Linked DNA regions of Homo sapiens: region 1 is linked to region 2. A link means that fine-mapping ties the variant in region 2 to the expression of a gene that starts in the linked region. Tissue or cell type: pancreatic islets. Region 2 holds a variant in brackets; the other region holds the start of a gene. All regions are shown on one strand. Distances are between the middles of the regions.

Evidence for each region. PIP is the estimated chance that this variant, and not a neighbour inherited with it, causes the effect.
Region 1: it holds the start of SMC5, and the variant in region 2 is fine-mapped to the expression of SMC5 in pancreatic islets (PISA, PIP 0.95).

The regions. Positions count from the first base shown.
Region 1 is chr9:70,254,914-70,263,018 of GRCh38, forward strand. It overlaps SMC5 (structural maintenance of chromosomes 5), which reads left to right and starts at 4,065. Exons shown (of 25, transcript NM_015110.4): 1 at 4,065-4,350. The coding sequence starts at 4,166. It overlaps SMC5-DT (SMC5 divergent transcript), which reads right to left and starts at 3,961. Exons shown (of 4, transcript NR_039990.1): 1 at 3,483-3,961; 2 at 3,002-3,022. RefSeq lists enhancers at 3,632-3,821, 4,152-4,351 and a silencer at 3,892-4,111.
Region 2 is chr9:70,747,120-70,755,224 of GRCh38, forward strand. All of the region lies in intron 8 of TRPM3 (transient receptor potential cation channel subfamily M member 3), which reads right to left. Among named protein-coding and RNA genes, the nearest start is that of MIR204, 59 kb to the right of the region's middle. The variant G/GTA (reference allele first, on the strand shown) is at 4,885.

The DNA of each region.
Region 1 (8,105 bases), 490 kb before region 2:
ACACAATTTGATTAGTTCACTAAAGACTAATCACATAGAAGGAATACATTCTAATGTTTGATAGCACAGTAGAGTGACTATAGTTAACAATTATCTATTGTATTTTTCAAAATAGCTGGAAGACTTGAAAGGGACCCATCACATAGACATTATAAATACCCTAACTTAATCATTACATATCATACGCATGTAACAAAATTGCACATGTACCCCATTAATATGTACAAATATATATATATTCAAAAAATAATTTTTAAAAAGCTGAGGAGGAAAGAACAAATTTTAAAAAGCTGGAGGGGAAAGAACAAATTAAACTTTAACAGAAAGTTAATTACGAAGATAAGTAGAAATTATGAAATCAAAAGTCAACAAAAGCAAAAATCAAGTTGTTCCTTTAAAAAGATTAATAAAACATACGTAACCTCTACTAGATTAATAAATGAGAGGAAGAAATGAACAATTTACCAGTATCAAGTGAGAAAGAGGAAGCATCACTATAGATGCTGCAAACGTTAATGGATATTAACACATAACTTCATGTAATAAGTTTGACAACTTAGATGAAAAGGACAAATTACTTGAAAAGCACAACCTATTAAAACTGACTCAAGAAGACACAGAAAATCTGAAATTATTTAATCATGCTATTCACACAGCTACTTCAGAGGCTCCAAGTCTTATAATGTGGGGTTTCTTGGCTCCTTACCCCTCTCCTGGGGGATCTAGGAAATAAATGTTGCTATTGATTGCCAAAAAAGGGAAGAAAAAAAAGGACTGATCATTGTACAAAAATGATGACTAGCTCCCTGCCCTCAGCTCCCATTACTAATGTCTATAATTCTTATTTGTTCATCAGGGTAGATTCCCCTAAATGTAGTAACTTCATCAAACAATCTGACTTTTCTACAGCTCTTGAAGCAGAGCCTTTACTTTTCAAAAAATTCATGCTAGCAACTCAGGGAAGGACAGTATTGTGCCCTCCTGAGCACTGAGTTTTTTCGTTACTCACCGCCATTTGAACAGTTTAAAAATTATTCTTTATTTTTGTTGCAGTCTCACCAACGCACCTTAACGTAGCAGTTTCTCATTGTCTGAACTAGTACCCTGGGTTCTTTGTCCTCACGTCCAAGAAAATTAAGGAACGTGGACACAAAGGTGGGGTTGGAGCAAAAGTTTAATAAGTGAAAGAAAGAAAAGAAGCTCTCTGCATTAGAGAGGGGAGTCTGACTGGACTGCCAAGTTGTAGTAAAAACGTCAGGGTTTTTATAAATGGACTAGTGAGGAGGGGTGTCTTATCTTCCCAGGGCCTGAAGATTTAGTTGGGACCAGGTGTGCTATCGGCATAGAGCAGAGTTCCTAACAGCCTTTACCCAATTCCTTGATCACATAAGCAGGCTTTTAGTTTATGCTGCTCTGTGCTGCTTTGTGTCGCTTAAGTTTCTGTGTCTGTTCCCAGACATTTTCTTGCAGCTGCAGGCATCCCCCAACCCTCCCTGTATAAGCTTCTCGCTTCCGTATCTTAGTGGGCCTAAACGGAAAGGAATGTACTTATTAAGTCTCACAGTTTTTACTGGGGCCCATTGTATGAGTATGAAGTCGAGACTCTCCCACTCCTGTGCTTGTTTATCTGTGCTTAAAGCTGTCTATCTGTCCAGGTGCAACCTGAGGTTTTCCCAAGGTTGTTTTATTTTTTGCCTGTTGCTGTGACTTTTCAGGTAGGCTGCTGCTGCAGTCTGAATTTTTTCAATGATTTTTCCTTCCCGTCTCTCTCATTTTCATTTGCATTTAAGAAAATTTCCAGTAACTACGACAAGTTCACATGCTTTTTACTTACTCTATTTTCTCTGGAGCGGAGTCCTTGTGTGAGAGGAAGCAGCAGAGACCTGGGAAAGGAGCTTTGGTCTAGGAGTCAGGAATCAGGGATCTACTGCAATAGCTTTCTAAGTGGCCTTCCACTTCCACACTTGGTGCCCTCTAATCCATTTTCCACACAGCAACCAGAATTATTATTTAAAAACTTTAAGGCCAGGCACAGTGGCTCATGCCTGTAGTGCCAGCACTTCGGGACACCGAGGTGGGCGGATCACTTGAGGTCAGGAGTTACAGACCAGCCTGGCCAAAATGGTGAAACCTCGTCTCTACTAAAAATACAAAAATTAGCCAGGTGTGGTGGCATGCACCTGTAATCCCAGCTACTCGGGAGGCTGAGGCAGAAGAACCGCTTGAACGAGGGAGGCAGAGTTTGCAGTGAACTGAGGTGGCACTACTGCACTCCAGCCTGGGCGACTGGGTGAGACTCTGTCTCAAAAAAATCAAATAAAAAAAATCAAATAAAAAAATTAAAAGCTTTAGTCAGAACATGGCCCTCTCCTGCTTAAAACTTTGCAATGGCTTCCCATTGCTTTAAAAATAAAATTCAGGCTTTTCCACGATGGACAAGGTTCTGCTCTGCAACCTTGTTCACTGCTCTGCAGCAACACTGGCCTTCCCACCTCAGAGCTTTTGTCCTTACTGGTATGTTCCAGCAAAATTCTTTTGCCTGGGGTGCTCTTTTCTCAGATCGTCACAGTTTCTTCTCGTCCTTCAGAGTTTATCTTAAACACCACCACCTCTCTAAGAGGCCTTCCGTACCTCCCACCCATCAGGTTCATTTTGTTTTCTTCCTAACACCTGTCACAGTCTGACATTATGCTAATCATTTGTTGTGTCAGCCTTAAGTAGTGAAATTCAGAAAATATCATTAAGTATAGAGTTTATTCTAACGCAAAGCTTGAGGACAGCCACCTGGAAACACCAACTCCAAACAAATAGGGTCAATGTTCCAAAGTGAAGTTAAGGTTTCATTTACACAGGCAGAAACAGAGAAGGTTCAGCAGGAGTACATTTTCAATACAAGAGCAGTGCATAAATTACAGCGATTAGATTAGTTATAGATAGCTACATTCCAAGGAAGATAACTATATTAATTTATGAAGGGGGTAGTGATCTGAGGGGGTCTTACCTCTGTCTCTGTTTGGTCTTCCTGATTATAGGAAAAAACAAGGCAGACATTGCAGCTGTATGCCATGGGACTCAGGCCCCATCGCCACATTCTTCGCAAGGCTCAGAATAATTTAAAGTTCCAACAGCTTTAAGTTTGAATTATTTAATTTCACAGTTGATTCACTTGTTCTTTTCCTGTCTCCCACAATAGAAAATAAGCTCCCAGGGATGCAACCTTGGCAGGCTCCTAAACTGCCACGGCTCCAGTTTCTTGTAGATTAGATATTCACTGTTGGTTAAATGAAAGAAGTTCTAGACAGGCCTCGGTGTGCTGCCTCCTCTTTAACGAGAGGGCTTACTAGATGAATGTGAGCAGACGGAAGCAGAACACCCTCTTAATGAAGGCAGCGCATTCCAGCTCAGGGATTTCTAGAAACCTCGGGGGCGGAAGTTTAACCAGAGAATTAGGAGGCAAGGGGAAGAGTAGCAATGAGGTTAACCTGTGCAGTGTAGTCATTTCACGAGTTTGAGAACGCCTAGCACGATGCCTTAACGGAGCGTCGGGCACAGAGTCATTTGGGAGGATTTCTTTTTCGGATTTTTGAGACAGGAACCTGATTTGAAGCAACAGGGAAGAACACCAAGAGGACGAAGAGCCAACGACGGGCGTGCCCGGGAGCTCTCACCTGGAAGGGGTGGGAGCAAGCAGGGCCTGACGTCCTCCCGCCTTGGCGGCCGTGGACGCCCCAGGTGCCACCCACAGCAGCCTCCCACCACACATGACTGAGGCTCGGGAAGCAATAAAGTGGCTTTCAAAATACTAAACGCAATTGAGATTTTTTCCTGAGTTAAAACAAAAAAAAAAAGGAACTGAATGCCGAAATATACGGAGAAGAAACTCCAGTTGCCACGTCCCCGAACGTCTCCACCCAGTCCTGCCTGCTGTTTCGCCCTCAGTCTGGGCCTCGCACAGCGCGGCGGAGCGCGGGAGGGGCGGGGCGGGCCTGCTGACGTCGCCGGACCTGAACTGCGCAGGCGCGGCGCGAGATCGCGGGAGCGAGCGCGCGGTAACAGTTCGCGGCAGTTCGCGCGGGAGCGGGGCGCCTGGGTGGATGGGCGCTTGGGCGCCTGGGCTGCCGGACGGTGGGAACGGAAGTCGCTGTGGGACGCTGAGGAAGCCAGGATGGCGACTCCGAGCAAGAAGACGTCAACTCCAAGCCCCCAGCCTTCCAAGAGAGCTCTCCCGAGAGACCCTTCGTCGGAGGTCCCGAGCAAGAGGAAGAATTCGGCCCCGCAGCTGCCGCTGTTGCAGTCGTCCGGGCCTTTCGTGGAAGGCTCTATCGTCCGCATCTCGATGGAGAACTTCCTGTAAGTTGCCCGGAGGCCGCGCCGCGGGTGTGGAGGTGTGCTGGCCAGCAGGCCCCGGGGCTCCGGCAGCGCGCGGGCGTGGGCGTGTGGGTGTGTACCTGGCTTGTGGGTCTGGCCTTGAATTCGTGCCGGGGTTCCCTTGAGGATTTTCCTACGTAGGCTGTGGAGATTGACGTGTATGATGTAGGAGATGTGTGCCTTGGGTGATGTGGTTTTTAAATTTAGTCAGCCAAGGTTTTCCAAAGGTGTCATGTAGCAGGTAGTGGTTGTAGGAGGGAGTAGGTCTCTGCCCGCTGGGAGTCGCGATCCATAGCGGCCCTGGTCTGGAATTCACAGAAGTATTGTCCCCGGGAACTTAAGAGGAGGCAACAGTTAATTCGGCGTGATAGTGATGCTGTGGCGGATTCTTAGGGTAGGCATTTGCCAGAGAGGAGTAGATAAGACGGTAAAGGTTGTTCGGGAATGGAGGTTACAGGTACAAAAAAATTAAACACTTACTGGCAATTGTTGGACCTCCCTACAAACCCTTGACCCCACTAAACCCAGTTTTCTTCCCTGGTTCCTCCCTCTCCCCTTCAGACAACTAGTTACCGCTTTAGAATTTAGTAAGTTTTAAATATATCATGTATTTGCCTAGCACCTTCCAGTTCATTTGTTCCAGGTCTTTTTTTTTTTTTTTTTCCTCTTTTTTTTTGAGACGGAGTTGCGCTCCTGTAGCCCACGCTGGATGGAGTGCTGTGCCGCGATCTCGGCCCACTGCAACTTCCGCCTCTCGGTTTCAAGCGATTCTTCTGGGTCAGCCTCCCGAGTAGCTGGGACTACAGGCGCGCGCCACCACGCCCGGCTAGTTTTTGTTTTTGAGACGGAGTGTCATACTGTCGTCCGGGCTGGAAGGTAGTGGCGCAATCTCGGCTCACTGCAACCTCCGCCTCCCAGTTTCAATCAATTCTCCTGCCTCAGCCTCCCGCGTAGCTGGGATTACAGCCAGCCGCCACCACGCCCAGCTATTTTTTTTTGTATTTTAGTAGACTCGCGGTTTCACCGTGTTGACCAGGCTGATCTGGAACTTTTGACCTCAGGTGATCTGCCCGCCTCGGCCTCCCGTAGTGCTGGGATTACAGGCGTGAGCCACCATGTCCGGCCGGAAGTCTTTTTAAAGCTTGCACATAGTGGCATAAGGATAACAGAATTGTAATAACAATACTACCTTTTTTTTTCAAGCACCTATTGTGTGCCAGGTACATAGTGCACTCATTCTTTCTTCATAACAACTCTATCTTGATAATTTCCATTGCTGAAAGAAGCTCAGTAGGTTATTTTGCCCAGTTTTACGCAGCTGTTACATAGTTGCATTGCTATTTGAATCCAGATCAGGAAAGATAAATGTAATCAAATGAGTTAGATACCATAACAACATATATCAGGATCCTTCACAAAGGATGAAGTGGTTAGTTTTGTCTACGAGTATGAGAAAGGGCTTTGTAAAGAAGATATGAAAGTCTTTGGTCTTGCTCTGTTGCCCACGCTGGAGCTCAGTGGCATGATCAGGGCTCCGTGAAGCCTGGACCTCCCCTTCTCAAGTGATCCTCCTACCTCAGCCTTTCAAGTAGCTCGGACTATAGGCGCGTACCATACCTGGCTAATGTTTTAAAATTTTTTTGTAGAGATGGGGTTTCACCATGTTGCCCAGGCTAGTTTCGAACTTCTGGGCTCAAGAAACTCACCTCGGCCTCCCAAAGTGCTGGGATTACAGACATGAGCCACTGCACCCGCCTAAGAAGATAGGAAAGTCTTGCAAGAAGTGAAGAGCATTGAAGACAGAAGGAACTGTCTGAAATAGTTTGGTATATTTAGAAAGCGTCAAGTATTTTAGTAAGGCAAGAATATAGGATGTGAATGAGTATTTGGACAAAGGGTAAGCAACCATTCAGGGGCCTGTATGTTTACTATGCTAAGAAGTTCCGACATCATCCTGTAGGCAGCCACGGTGTGTTTTCAACAGGGAATGACGTGTGTTCTGTGTTATTCTGGAAGCACTGTAGAGGATGATTTAGAAAGGGTGCAAGATTGGAAGCAAAAAGACAATACGAAGGCAAGAGATGATCAGAGTGTGAAGGAATGAGATTTGACAGGATCCAGCTACAGAATAGTTGTGAGGCATGGGGGAAAGGGAGGAATGCAGCATTTTTCCCAAGTGTAAGAGCCTTAGCTAATTGATCAGGTGCTATTCAGAAGAGGGAGCAGTTTGAGGAGAATAATAAATGCCTCTTAGATCCTGTGACTTAAAGTTTCCTTTGTGGCATCTAAGAGAGATGTTCTATAGGCAGAATGTAGGAGTCTGGAGCTTAGAGGAAAATATGAACAGATGAGAGTTTTGGGAGTCATGCATACAGGTGATTGATGAAGTTGCAGAACTGGTTATGATTGCCCAATAGGAATTATGAATTGAAGAACTAGAAGACCATGTACAGAGTCTTGGGAGAATGCCTACATTAAGGGTGAACTGAAGAAGGACTCAAAGTCAGAAGGAACTATTCAGGGAGGTAAGATGAAAACAGTGGGAGACAATTATCAAAGAAGCCAAGGAAAAAGAATGTTTCAAAAATATCACCTGCTACATTGAAGTCAGATAGCGGGACTGAAAAGAGCCCACTGCATTTAGCAATTGGGAAATCTTTGACCTTTTAATGAAGCAGTGGAAGCAGAAAACTTTGCAGGCCGGATGCAAAGAGAAGAAAGAGAAGGTAGCTGGAAGTGCAGAGGTTGGTGAGATGCTGTTTATTTTAATGAGGGGATTTTGAGTTTTAGGCATGAGGTAGAGAAAGATGCGCTTAGAGAATTAGCAAGGAAATAAGATGGGTAGTTAGAGAATGTAAATGGCCTGGAAGAGAGTAGTGAGTGAACCAAGTCAAATGGAGTTGGGAGTGGAGGAAGACACTTGGAGGCTGAAGGAATAACATGTGCAAATACTTCAGAGCAATAAGGAATTATAGTCACAAAACTGAAAGAAGTACATTATAGGTAGAATTTAGAGGTCTAAGGAGAGAATAGGGAAAGGAGATAAAAAGTAGAAAAAGATGAAACTCGGCTGTGATGGGTTTTTCCTTAATTTTTCTTTTTTAACAAGTGACATCAGATTTACAATTCTACCAGCATCACTTGGTGATTGATTGGATGATGGAGTGGTGGTTTGGGTGGAGTCAAAAGAGATGAAAGAACCAAAGAGGATGCAAAACTAATGCCTAGGTTTCTGATTTGGTCAATGGCATGAATGATAATACCATTCACTAAGAGACCACAAGAGTGGTTTTGGATGGGAAAGATGGTGGATTTCGTTTTAAATGTGTTAAGTTTAAGATGACTGTTATGGGACATTCAAATAGCGTTATTGAGGTGACCATTGCATATAGAGGTCATCTGGACTGCTTTCAGCATGTAGATAGTATGCAAAGACTTGGAGAAAAAAAGGAATCATTGAGGCCATAGAGAATACATGAGATACCTCGTGAAGTATATGGAATGATAAGAGGGTGGGTCTTTACCAATAGCTCTTTCAGAGGGAGCTCAGAGGAAAGGAAACTCATGATAAGGGAATTCCCAATAAATACATCGTAGAATCAGAAGATTGATTTTAAACAGTGCAGACACTTGATCTGGGTAGCTAAAGGCAAGAAAAATCCCCCGCCTACCCCCGCCAAAAAAAAAAAAATTGCAGAGGCTTTGTTTTTGGCAACTGTCCCTATTTGTAATATCGA
Region 2 (8,105 bases):
TGCTATGATATTAAGCACAACTAGGCAAAAGTGAGTACAAGAGAAACATAGAATAATGAATCAGACAGATTCTGCTCTTAAGAGCTTGCATGGGAAGTTAGAGATATACATAAATAAAGTATAAATGACAAGCACAAGAAAGTTACAAATAAAGGAGGCAAATGGATTCCAGGTGTGTGTGTGTGTGTACACATGCAAATGCAGACATGTGCACGGGTTTGGTAATTGAATATGACTAAAGAGAGTGCTCTAAGCTTGAACAATATCAGGGAAATAGAAAATTTAAAAATGACTGTAAGGAGATCTGTTTGGTTAGTGTGATGAATCCATAAAGAAGCAATGGAATTTTGGACTGAAACTGCAGGCAAAACATTCTACTTTACGTTCAAAAGAGTGATATGATTGGTTCTGTGCTTCAACAAGGGCTATCAGGCATTTCTATGGCAAGGGGCCAGCAAACCACTGCCTGTGGGTCAAATTTGTTTTATGGTCTGTTTTTCTGTGACCAGTAACCTGAGAATGATTTTTACATTTTAAAGGGTTGTTCAAAAACAAGAAAGCAAACAAAGAACAGTATGTGACAGAGACTGTATCTGGTATGCAAAACTTGAAATACTTACTATCTGCCACTTTACAGAAAAGTTTGCCAACCCCTGCAGTGTGTAGGATGCATTGTTAGGGGGATATTGGACTAGGCGACCAAGTTCATAGGGAATAGCAATAGTCTAGGCAAGGAAGAATGAGGGTATGAGTGAGAGTGGAACTTGGAAATGCAGGAGCCAGGGGAAAGCAAGGCTAGATATTTGTGCATTTGGGAATTATCTTGATTAAAATGGTAATTGAAGTCACAATAGTGAATGAAAGGGAAAAGAGCCAATAATTGATCATAGTTAAACATTTATTTTTAGAGTGGTGAGGAAGAAGAGGATCTAACAATGGAAAAAGAAAACAAATGGTAACAGAAGTGTTAAAGAAACAGAAAATTGAGAGTCTAACATGAAATTCACAGGAAAGTAACTTTAAGAAGAAAGAGGAAGTTGATAGCCTCAAATGCTATAGAAAATTTACTAAAAAGGTTGCAAAAGTTATGGCCTAATATCTTTGCTTCCATTTATTCCATTAGCACAATTTGTAAGTCCTTGGCTTTTGCTTGCCTTATGCTGCCCTGCCCAAGAGAGAATGTGGTGTTAATGAGGTATTAGAGCCATAGCTGCCAGGGTACAACAGTGACCTAGCCCTTAAGTTTAGCTTCTCATGTTGTATGTCTATTATGTTCTAAATAAAGGTAGATGCCAAGTCTCTTCTAACTCTCCTCAAAGTACTTCTTCTCCATGTCAACTGGTGGATATGTGATTGCTAGGATTTGAATATTTGTGTCTCCTTCAAATTCATATTGACTCTTAATCACCAAGATGATAGTATTAGGAGGTGGGGCCTTTGAGAAGTGATTAGGTCCTGAGGTCTTTGCCCTGATGAATGGGATTAGTGCCCTTACGAAAAAGGCCTGAGGAAGCTTGCTTGCCCCCTCCACCACATGAAGATGCAGCAAGAATGTACCATTTACGAGAAAGTGGGCCCTAACCAGATACTGAATCTGCCAGAGTCTTGATCTTGGACTGTCCAGCCTCCAGAACTGTGAACAATAAATCTCTGTTGTTTATAAACTACCTAGATTATGGTATTTCATTATAGCAGCCTGAACAGACTAAAACAATGGTCCCTGGAGACTTCTTGACTGACGAGGGTTAAGAAAAAATTAGTTTATTTTGTTTTTTATTTTTTTGAGACAGGGTCTTGCTCTGTCCCCTGGGCTGGAGTGCAGTGGTGTGATCTCAGCTCACTGCAGCCCCAAACTCCCAGGCTTAAGAGATTTAGCTAGAACTCCGGTTGCATGCCAACACAACCAGTTCATTTCTGTATTTTTTTTGTGGAGATAGGGTTTTGCTATGTTGCCTAGGCTGGTCTCAAACTCCTGGGCTCAAGTGATCCACACTTCTCAGCCTCCCATTACTAATATACAGTCCCAATGTCCTGGGACTATGGGCATGAGCCACTGTGTCCAGACAAAAGTTGGTTTATTTTCATTCTTGTGTATCCTGAATTGATGTACTGAATAAACAGACTTAGTACTCTAGTATGCAATGTTTGCTTCTTGATTTTAGAATCATTATTGCAAATGAGAACCAGCTGTAGGGAAGTAGGAAGTCCATGTTACCATACTATAAAGTCTGCGAGGTACATTACAAAAACCCCCAAGATATAGTCTAGGAATTAAGACGTTAAAGTAATTTTACCACTTAAATTATGATTAGAAAGCTATTTTTTTTCTTTTTACATTCAGGCCATGAGTGCACCAATAAATACTCAATAACTAGCACAAATCCAAAATAAGCCATTGGACAACTATCTTATTTTGGAAACTATAGGGCAGAGTTAAGAAATAGTAAATAACATCCTGCTTATTAAAATTGTTAAAGCAATTTACCAAAAACTGTGTAGTAATAAAGTCAGAAAACTGAAATGTGCTCTAGGTTCTGAGATAAGAAGAATAAAAGTCAGATTATTTCCTATATTTCATAAACAAGTAGTACTAAAATGAAGTCATCCTGGAGAAGGCAACAAATTGGTATAAAGTTATTCGTGCTTTATTTAATTTTTATCTTCTAACATAATTAAATATGAGCTAACATTTCACCTTTATGGAAAAAGAAGTCTGGCATATGAATATTTCATTTGGTAAGAGAAGCATAATGGATAAAGTCCATTTGACCCAGATGTAGATTCAATGGCTAATTATTGAAATCTCTCTTCCTTTCTCTTTCTTGACAGTCACTGCATGTATCTCATTTAAAATAATTACTATTTAATCTGGGTTGTGATAACCAACTAATTCTAGCAGAGGTTACGCACATCATAAATAGTGTCAGGGTCCCTACAGAAGCAACGATATATAACAGCTTTCACCAACACGCAGCTTAGACATAGGCTACTAGGCTGTACTGTAAGATTGTACTATGCATTTTTCTGTTGAAAATCAGAGTAAGCAGTTGTGAGATGTCATAGCTGGATGCTCGCAGTTTCATGTGATCATGGAAGTGGAAATGGCAGCAGAAGAGAATCTTTTCCCAGATGAAAGAAAGTATGGGAGTTTGGAAAGCCTAAATTATAGGCTGGGAAACAGGGTGGTAAAAAGAAGTAATTGAAGTGTGGGGATTCATCCAGACTGCATTCAGACTGTGGAGGGCCTCAAAGCCACATTAAATAGTTTGGACACTTGTTAGTAGCAAAAGCAAGTCCTTGAAACTATCTGAGCAAATAAGTTAACAAGTCAGGCCTGGGCCTCAAGCATCAAGCCTGGAGGAGTGTTTGGAATAGCTTGGAGGACAGACAACAAGGTTTCCTTTCTGGGACTAGGTAGGAACACAGAGTAATGGCCCTGGTGAAGAAAACTGAGGCTCAGAATGAGGATGATGGCACTGGAATCGAAGTAGAGCAGGCAGATGTGAGAGACACTGCCGAAAGAAACTCAGAATAACTTGGCCACAATTGGCTGGTGGCGGTGGCAATGAGGATAGGGGAACTGAAGCTTTCAAGACTGAGAAAATGAAACGAGAATTGGAAGGGGAAACATTGTGGAGATGTAGGGCTGGGAAGCACTGGAGGATGTTGGATAGGCTGATTTTGTTTCTGGACATGTAGAACTTGAAGTAATGACGAGACAACCAGGTGAGACATCCAAGCGCAAGCTGTAAGTATGGTTGGAGAGATTGAGAGAGCAAGGTTAAGGCCAGAAATAGTTTTGTGAATAATCTCCAATGAGGTTGTTGGTGAAGCCAACAGGAGATGTATGATATTACCAAGAAAAAAAAAAAAGGTCTTATAAGGAAATACCTAAATGAGACTTAGCAATTGAGACTATCTTACTGAATAAATGAATGAAATTTAAAATGTATTCAGGGTAATTAGCACAGAATACATGCAATTAGACTAATTTACCACTAAAAATAGAGCATCTAATATGACGTTAAAAACAAAAGCTATATATAATTTTTAAGAAACTCATCTAACATATAGGGTGCAGAAAAGCTGAAAATAAAAGGAGAAAAAGCATGAAAATGTCCTATATTGGGAAAGTACGAACTAAAAGAAGTTGATGTAAGTGGATTAATATCAGATGAAATGAAATGCAAGACAAAGCATTGTCAGGAATAAACAAAGTCTCTGAATAATGATAGAAAAATATTTCACCAGGAAATATAGCTAGTCTAAAAACTTATAAGCCTAACAACATCATCTCAAAATACATAAAGCAAAAATTTGACAGAATTTTAAAGAGAAATTGACACAATCTCCCATGATAGGAGACTTAAAATTACTTCTTCAAAAAATGACACAAAGAACAAAAGGACTGAGAAAAAAGAAGTTTCAGGTAATGTCCACATTATGGATGAAAGTAATGAGAAACGTAAGGAAAAGAGGAGGAGAAACAGAAAAGTTGGAGGACTAGCAGAAAAGTACAATGTCATTGAAATTTTAGGAAGGTAGAAAAGACAGAAGTAGAACCCAATGCAGAGGGAGTAATAGAGTTACTGTTCAAGAAATGTACATTTTCTAGAGAAAAAATTATGGAGGAAATGCAAAGTGATGGGATGTGTTGCCTGTTTAGAGAATGACTGTAGAGAAGAAGAGGGGCACTACTTCCTCTGATACTACATAGAAAAAAAAGGCATGGCTCAAGATATAGTCACACTGGGATAAAGGAGAAGAAAGTAGAGGAGCTTACATTTATGACCTTTGATTTCCTTTAAGGAGGAGTCTTCTGTTGAGCATGAGGAGAATGAATCTTTAATTTCAATGCAGTTTCAATCCACATCTCAACAGTGT[G/GTA]TGTGTGTGTGTGTGTGTGTGTGTGTGTGTGTGTGTGTGTGTGTGTGCGCGCGCGCGCGCATACACATGTACATGCAACCTGAAAGGCTGAGTTTAAAATTTATCTATAAGAGCAAAGGGCTAAAATAGTTGGCAACTCTGGAGAAGTGTCACAAGGAGTGTGACTTGCCCTATCATACATCAGGGCTTATTATAAAGTTACACTGATTAGAAAAATAGGGCACCAGGGAAGGACTAGACAAGTAGGGAAGCCAGAAAGGCTCATGTATAGGTGGAAACCTGCTTTATGAAAGAGCTGGCATTATGCGACATAAGGATGGACCATTAAATAAATGACGCAAGGTCAGCTAGTCATCTACATGGATCTCCACTTCATATCATACACAAAAAAAATCAGTTATGGATGGGTTACAGGTTTAATGTTGAAGGTGAAACTAGACACATTTTAGTAGAATATATAGAAGAATATCTTTTTGATATTTTGGTAAAGAAGAGTTTATTAAACATGAGGCAAAAAGCACAAAACATAAAAAAGGCTGATACATTTAGCTGCAGTCATAGGCTGCATAATGACGTTTCAGTCAATGATGTATTGTGTATGTGACAGTGGTGCCATGAGATTATAATATTGTATTTTTATTGTATCTTTTTATCTTTAGATATGTTTAGATACACAAATACCTAACATTGTGTTACAGTTGCCTACAGTATTCAGAACTGTAATATGCCATTCAAATTTGTAGCCTAGGGACAAATAGGCTATACCATAGAACCTAGGTGTGTAGTAGGCTATGTTGTCTAGGTTTTTAGAATTACACTCTATGGGCTGGGAGTGGTGGCTCATGCCTGTACTCTCAGCACTTTGGCAGGCCGAGGTGGGCAGATCACCTGAGGTCAGGAGTTCAAGACCAGCCTGGCCAACATGGTGAAACCCCATCTCTACTAAAAGTACAAAAATTAGCTGAGTGTGGTGGTTGGCACTCCCAAAAGCTACTTGGGAGGCTGAGGCAGGAGAATTGCTTGAACTTGGGAGGTGGAGGTTGCAGTGAGCCGACATCACACCACTGCACTCCATCCTGGGCGACAGAGCAAGACTCTGTCTCAAAAAAAAGAAAAGAAATACACTATGATGTTCACACAACAATGAAATAGCCTAATGACACATTTCTCAGGATATATCCCCATTGTTAAGTAATGCCTGACTGTACATTAAATTTGAGAATTTCTATTTATCAAAGTACATCAAAAAAAGTGAAAAAACAAGCCCCAAACTGAGAAAATGTATCTGTAACACAACCAACAAAAGATTAGTATTTAACATATATAAAAAGAATAAGAGGAAGTGGCTGTGGTTTGAAACTTGGAAAGAATATAAAAGATTTAGAACAATGATTGTAGGGAATAGGAGAGCCTATTGACTAGAGATAAATACGAGGATTGGCTGGTGTTATTGAAAGCCTAATCCAATTAGACTGAATGACTCAGCTTTGGGAGTGGTACGAGAAGCATCAGGCACATAGAATAGAGTAATTGACAGGTGAGGGAACCCAGATGGGAGCAGGGAGGGTGGAAAGACATAGTGCAAACTCTCAACAAGGCACAAGGTAAAGAAAACTATTTTGAACATGTTTTTACACAGATTGCTTGAGGCGTTTGATCTCAGGCTCGTGAACAGAGAAGCCTGGCATCCAGGTTCAGGTTCAATATGAATGAAGTGGTGGGAGGGGGGAGGTAGGGCAGTTATCTTTGGAGTGGGGAGTAGATTTTAAAGTCTTAGATTTTGGAGCAGCAAGGCTTTGAGTGGAGGCATGATTCCCAGGTGTGACTGGGAAGAAATGGAAAGATGAACTGATTGGACGCTAGGAGGTCTGGCCGCTGTCAGGGGAGTAGAGTGAATGATAGGACTCACCAGTGTGGAAGCAGAAGGTGGTGAACTAGGAGCAGGGCTGGTGTTGTCATCACCATGACTTGTTTAGGGCCACACAACCATGGGGCTTACAATGCCAAGTCTAAGTGGTCCTCCTACACTCCAGGGTATCAAAAGCAAATGTACTGCCCCAGTCTGGGGTTGGTGGTTTGGCAGTGGCGATAGAGGAAGGCTTCTGCAGGAGCTCAGAGGACAGACAGGAGCTCCAGGAGGCAGCAGCAGAAAAGGAGCTGGCACTGCCCTCTGGAACATAAGGCTCTTGGTTTCTATGCACATAATCAGCCTCACTGTGTGCATGGTCACCTGTGTCCCCTTTTCCTGGTCTTGATATTCTTTATGACCAAACCCCTCTTGAGGAGGAAGATAATAGAGAGACATCTGATCTGTGACATCTGTTCCCCAATGAATATGTTGCAGATAGTCTTTATCTCTTTAATTTCTATTCTTTACCTGAAAACAATGATAGAACTTAGGTTATAGGTTGATTTCTAGAAGGACCTATCTTTTTTAAAGGGGACAGGTTTTGAGTAAGCAGAGGAGTGAATTACTTCAAGATCTATATGAAATGAGCAGAAAGTACAGCAGTATCTGTGTGAAGATGTCGTGAGGGGCTGCCCCACCTAGCTTGAAATTGCAGGCCCAGGGAATATTTTTCATGAGGCCACAGCACCCAGAGGCCCATCCATAGTGCAGGCTTTATTATGTAAGTCAGTTAAGTGCTGGGATGAGAAAGATATCACATCAACTCTAGAACCAAATAGCTTAGCCAAACTTGGCAACGGTTAGACTGGCCTCATAATATTATACCCCATATAGTTTGTAAGGGGAATCAAAAGAAACTTGAAGGATACAAGAGAAAAGAGAAACTCTATGACGATGCAATGCCTCCTTGTTTTGTGTGCTATGCTATGGAGCCTAATGAGTAGAAAACACGGGGTCTGCAGCAAGACAGTCCTAGCTTGGCTCTTCCTGGCTCTGTACATCTCCCCACCTCTCTTAGCCTCAGTTCCTTTCCTTGTCTCTGCAAGAGGAGAAAACAATGCCTACTTTGTGTCTACCTTATTTTCAAGGCATCTGGTACCGTCCATGTACATAAGTAGTCCCTCAAAATTTGAAATTATAGTTATACTGTAATTTTGATTTAAAAATTTCTAACTTATTTTTGCCCGGATGTGGAGATAAATTGTTGCTTCTTAAGAACACACAGGCCAACATTCAAATTTAGGAAATACAGAGAACACCACAAAGATACTCCTCAAGAAGAGCAACCACAAGACACATAATTGTCAGATTC